2 separate regions of the Homo sapiens genome follow, and region 1 is linked to region 2. Evidence: fine-mapped expression QTL. A gene starts in region 2. The other region holds a variant in brackets. All regions are shown on one strand. Distances are between the middles of the regions.

Region 1 (2,909 bases), 23 kb before region 2:
TACCATGCACTCAACAGGCACTATGTCACACTCTCAAATTATTATTCCTGTAATTACAAATTAAGAGACTGAGGCTCAGAGAAGTTACATGGATTGTCCAAGCTCACATAGCTGGTGAGAGACTGAGCCAGGTTTGAAACCCAATCTAATCCTACGTCTGTGCTCTTAAACAGAACACCAGGCTCAGAGGTCACATCACCCTGATCCTTCCAGTCACTGCCCTGTCTTGCCCCTAGCAGGGAAGAGGTGGGGGCAAGTTCTCTGCAGGGGATTTGAGTGGCGGGGATTGGGTGGGGAGAAGAAGTTCTGGACTCCCTGGTGCTGACCATCTCTCCATACAGAGGCTGGTGTGAGTGGCGGGAGCCATCTGTGGGCGCCATGGCAAAGAGGGAGGACAGCCCTGGCCCAGAGGTCCAGCCAATGGACAAGCAGTTCCTGGTATGCAGCATCTGCCTGGATCGGTACCAGTGCCCCAAGGTTCTTCCTTGCCTGCACACCTTCTGTGAGAGGTGAGGGGATGTGTGTACTGGGGAGGGATGAGGACCCTGTGGGGAGGATGAGGATCCTCCTCCCCTGTGGGGAGGGTGAGGGAGCATGTGTAAACCTGTAGTAGGTGAGGCAACATGCTTACCTGGGAGGAGAGCAGGTGAACCCCAACCTGCAGGAAATGAGGTTTTGAGGGCAAGAACCTGTGAGAGAACCATAAGAACCATAACACTGGGCCATGGTTCCTGTCAAGAATAGGGCCTTCTCTGTCCTTTCCCAAACCTCAAGGCAGCTTTTGACACCACCTAAGAAATCAAACAGTGCTCAGACTCAACCAGCTTTGGCATCAGCAATTTATGACTAGTTGGAGGATATTTGAAGTTAGGTCTGTCCTTCCCTGCTTGTCCTTGTTGTCCTCAGGTACTGAGTGAAAGGCAACCTGTCCCAGCCTCTAGGCTTCTATGGATCACTTATTCATTTAACAAATATTCATTTATTGAGCAACTACTATGTGCCAGACCCTGTTCTAGGCATTGGGTATGCAGTGATGAGCAAAAACAGATAAGATCCTTACTCTTTTTTTTTTTTTTTTTTTTTTTTTGAGATGGAGTCTCGCTCTGTTGCCCAAGGTGGAGTGTAGTGGCACGATCTCGGCTCACTGCAACCTCTGCCTCCCAGGTTCAACCAATTCTCCTGCCTCAGCCTCCGGAGTAGCTGGGACTACAGGCGCACGCCGCCACGCCCAGCTAACTTTTTGTATTTTATTACAGATGGGGTTTCACCGTGTTGCTCAGGCTGTTCTTGAACTCCTGAACTCAGGCAATCCGCCTACCTCGGCCTCCCAAAGTGCTGGGATTACAGGCGTGAGCTACCGTGCTTACTCTTTTTAAAAACTGATACACAATAGTTTACATATTTATGGGGAACATGTGATACATTGTTACACAAGCATAGAATGGGTAACAATCAAGTAGGGTATTTAAGGTATCCATCACTTACAATGCTTACTCTTAAAGAGCTAACAGTATAGTGAAAGAGAAAGATAGTCATCAAATAATCATATAGCCAGATTATAGATAAATATAACTTTTAGTAAGTGCTGCAAATAAAGTGCTGAGCTATGAGAGATTGGCATATGGAATCTGTTA[T/C]AGTTTGGAGAATCAGGGAAGGTTTCCCTGAGGAGCAATTCAGAGGATGAATAGGAGTTAACTAGGTAAAGGGGGTTGGAAGAGCATTCTGCACAGAAGAAAGACCATTGGAAAAGCTCATGTGACATGAGAAAATATGTCAGGTAAGAGGCCTGGAGGAAGCCTGGTAGGGCTAGAGCAGAGTGAGTGTGACTGAGAGTATTATGGGATGAAGCTGGAGAGGTAGGTGGAGGCCAGACCACCTAGGGCTTTGTAGACCTGTTAGGGAATTTCACCTTTACCCTGAGAGCCACATGAAGCCTTTGCAGGGTTTTATATGTGATCACATCTGTATTTTGACAATATTCTCTTGGGCCCTTATCTCTCATTGTTCTGTCTTGGGTGGCCTGGTCCCTAGGTCTTCTCACCACCACTGCCTCTATCCGCACTTTTCCTCTGCCTTCTGCCCCAACGGAAACCTGGCTCTGCACCAGAGATACTGCTTCCCTGCCAGCCCTGCTCTTTGAGATTCCAGCTCCACTGCCCACTCTCCTTTATCAACTGGAAATGGCCTCAGTTTTCCTGTCCATTCAAGTTCTTCTGTCAGCCTGGGGACAACCACCCTCTTGTGCCTGTTGGTTCTTAACTGTTTCTTCAGGGTTGTCCCCCATTCCACCTCAGTAACACTCCCTCCCAACCATGCCCTGAATCTTATAATCCAGAATCTTATCTGTAGTCATAAACGCCAACGTTCCACTCCTGGCTCCCGTTACCCCACTCCCATTACACCACTTTCGATACAATATAGATATCTAGCCCCTTTGACTGCTCCCTCTTTTCCCAGTCACCAGCTGCGTCCTGGCCTCCCTGTCTTTCCTGCCCATCCTGGACCCTGTGGCTGACCGACTGGCTCCCCTGCAGTTCCTTCACATCTTTATCCTTTGCAAAACCCATGCAATAGAAGCTCAATGTTGGATCAGAGCTGAAATTGGATGTCTCTGCACTTTCTCCTGTGCCCAGATCACTGAGCACTCCTGGAGAAAATCTGGCTGAGAAATTGTAATAACAGTAGCTACCATGTATTGATTGCTTACTGTTTGCCAGGGACTGGCTAAGTGATTTATACATACTGATTTCCTTAATCCCTGCAACAGATACTTTATTAACTTCATTTTATTTTTTTATTTTAATTTTTTAATGTAACTTTTCATTTTAATTTTTTTTGGTTTGTTTTTTGTTTTTGTTTTTGTTTTTTTGAGACAGAGTCTCTCTCTGTCACCCAGGCTGGAGTGCAGT
Region 2 (2,909 bases):
AGCAGCGATGGCATTGCCCAGGCTGCCAAGGACTCAGAGAGTCCAGCCTTGCCCACTGACCTATGAGGAGGGAATGATGTTCACAGCACATTTTCATTCGTAAGTCAGGAGAGGACATTGAGCCTGATGGCAGAGGCCTGGTGACATGTTGTTCCAGAGGTTCCGGAATGTGTGTTTTCCTGTTGGAAGGAAACTTCGCAGAGTAGAAAAGGGATCTGAGACTTTTGGTAAGATTATATATGGGACTGTCAGGGGTCTGGAGCCATCTGTGAGGGATCAGGGCCCTTTCAGCCTTGGCTAGGGAGCAGGGGTCCTGGAACTTCATCCTGGCCCATAGCTGAGTCTGCCCATAATTCTTTTCTGACTCACTAGGCAAATCTCACACAGAAATGGGGCAGCTTTGGGAGTGGGCCCAGGAAGTACTGAGGATAGCAGGTGAGATCCCAGGAAGAGATGGATGTGGGGCCGAGACACTGGAGAGAGAAACAGGACTGTCAGATAAAGGGCGTCTGTGACTCCTAGATCTCATTATGCCTACTACCATAACCTACCCCCAATTCCTAATATTCTCCTACCCTAGAGGGGGGGAAATTGTCAGAAATTTGGCTGCAACACTAGCAACACTACTCAGTACTTGAAATGCATTTTTGCATTTTTTTCATTCAACAAATATTTCTGGAACAACTCTTATATGCCAGGCACTATTTTAGGAGTCAGGGATATATAATGGTAAACAAGACAGGCAAAACAAAGCAAAGCAACAACAACCATCACCAGATAAGTAGACAGATGAAAGAATTTCAAGTTTTAGTAAGTAAAATAAAACAAGCAAGGGTCTGAAATGGCTAGATAAGGTGGTCAAGAAAGGCTTCATTGAGAAGGTAGCATTTAAGCAGGAGTCAGCTAGAAATATTGTGAAATTCCAGTTACAGTTCTATTTGTTCTGGGTTGGTTAAATAAAGCTTTTTCCCCCAAGGTGGAAACTACCAAGAAAGACTAATTACTAGTAGTGGTGGTGCTCTCTGGAAGAGAGACACCTCCTGTTTCTGCCTCATTACTGTCAACCCTTCACTTCCAGGCACTTTTTGCAAAGCCCTTTGCCAGTCAGGGAAGGCGAGAGGCTGGGCATGGGGCTTGGACATTTGACAACAGTGAGACATTATTGTCCCCAGACTCACTAGCCCAAGGGTAAAGCTGAAGAGGCTTGGGCATGCCCCAGAAAGGCCCCTGATGAAGCTTGGAAAAAGCTGTTCTCTGAGTATTTCTAAGTAAGTTTATCTGTGTGTGTGGTTACTAAAAGTAGTAAGTATTGCTGTCTCTAGCTGCCTTAGAGCAGGGCTTGACACAGTACACAGCAATATTAGTTCCCTCCTTTTCTCACCTCCCCCATTGTGGAGATAAACTCAATCACAAAAGGTGATCCTCAGTCTACTCACTTCCCTGACTTATGGATGCCTGGACCCATTGCCAGTGTGAGAGTCACAGCTGGACGTCAGCAGTGTAGCCCAGTTACTGCTTGAAAATTGCTGAAGGGGGTTGGGGGGCAGCTGCCGGGAAAAAGGAGTCTTGGATTCAGATTTCTGTCCAGACCCTGACCTTATTTGCAGTGATGTAATCAGCCAATATTGGCTTAGTCCTGGGAGACAGCACATTCCCAGTAGAGTTGGAGGTGGGGGTGGTGCTGCTGCCAACTCTATATAGGGAGTTCAACTGGTCACCCAGAGCTGTCCTGTGGCCTCTGCAGCTCAGCATGGCTAGGGTACTGGGAGCACCCGTTGCACTGGGGTTGTGGAGCCTATGCTGGTCTCTGGCCATTGCCACCCCTCTTCCTCCGTGAGTAAAGCTGGGACTAGAAGCGAAGGATTGAGTTCTGGGCTAGGGTAAGGTAGGGCCAGTTTTTAGGCCTCGGTCAAATTTGGGGTCAGGGGCTATGGGAAAGGGATCGGTCCCAATGGATCAAGATATCTATTTTGTTCTCCCTAGGACTAGTGCCCATGGGAATGTTGCTGAAGGCGAGACCAAGCCAGACCCAGACGTGACTGGTGAGGCCCTGACTCCCTAAGTCTGTCTTATCTGTCTGGTTGTGTCTCTGCATTTTATCACCTTCTGGTTTTTTTTTTTTTTTTTTTTTTTTTTTTTTTTTTTTACTTTGCCATCTCCCTACCTCCACCCCAGAACGCTGCTCAGATGGCTGGAGCTTTGATGCTACCACCCTGGATGACAATGGAACCATGCTGTTTTTTAAAGGTAGGAGGGACTGAGGTTAGGGCGTTTAGGACCTTAGACTTACTCTCCTTCACAAAGGGTGTCCCTGTCTGTGGGAGGTCTTAGGAATTATCTGATGGTATCACTGACAGCTTCTCTCAAGCTATCTCAGTAGGTCAAAGGTTTCTCACTGGGCCCCTCAGTGAGTGTGGGTTTTTTCAGGGGAGTTTGTGTGGAAGAGTCACAAATGGGACCGGGAGTTAATCTCAGAGAGATGGAAGAATTTCCCCAGCCCTGTGGATGCTGCATTCCGTCAAGGTCACAACAGTGTCTTTCTGATCAAGGTACTGCTGGGCCAAAATCAGGGCCAGGCTGGAAAGGGCTGGAATCGACACTGGGGACCCTTCCCCCAAATGGCCTTGGCATGGAGCCCATAGCAATAGGTAGCAGATTTCTTTCCCATGTGCCCTCCTTTCCTGTAAAAGCTTGGGCTAAGGGAGTGTGCATGCGTGTGGGCCTGGCAGGTGCACCATCCAGTGGCTGTTCTTCAGTCCTAGTCTTAGTTCTACACCGCTCTGCTGTACCTCACACTGCTGGCCATCCTTTTTTTCTCTGGCAATTGCTTCCCTTGCCTTCCATGACCCTGTATCAAGTCCTCTTCATAGGGCAAGGCAAGTTGTTCCCAACACAATGGCACCTGGCTA

The links. PIP is the estimated chance that this variant, and not a neighbour inherited with it, causes the effect.
Region 1: its variant is fine-mapped to the expression of HPX in whole blood (TOPMed, PIP 0.97).

Annotation. Positions count from the first base shown.
Region 1 is chr11:6,463,165-6,466,073 of GRCh38, reverse strand. It overlaps TRIM3 (tripartite motif containing 3), which reads left to right. Exons shown (of 12, transcript NM_033278.4): 2 at 342-509. The coding sequence starts at 379. Among named protein-coding and RNA genes, the nearest start is that of TRIM3, 9.3 kb to the left of the region's middle. The variant T/C (reference allele first, on the strand shown) is at 1,635.
Region 2 is chr11:6,439,805-6,442,713 of GRCh38, reverse strand. HPX (hemopexin) reads left to right here and starts at 1,727. Exons shown (of 10, transcript NM_000613.3): 1 at 1,727-1,833; 2 at 1,984-2,042; 3 at 2,176-2,247; 4 at 2,428-2,549. The coding sequence starts at 1,751.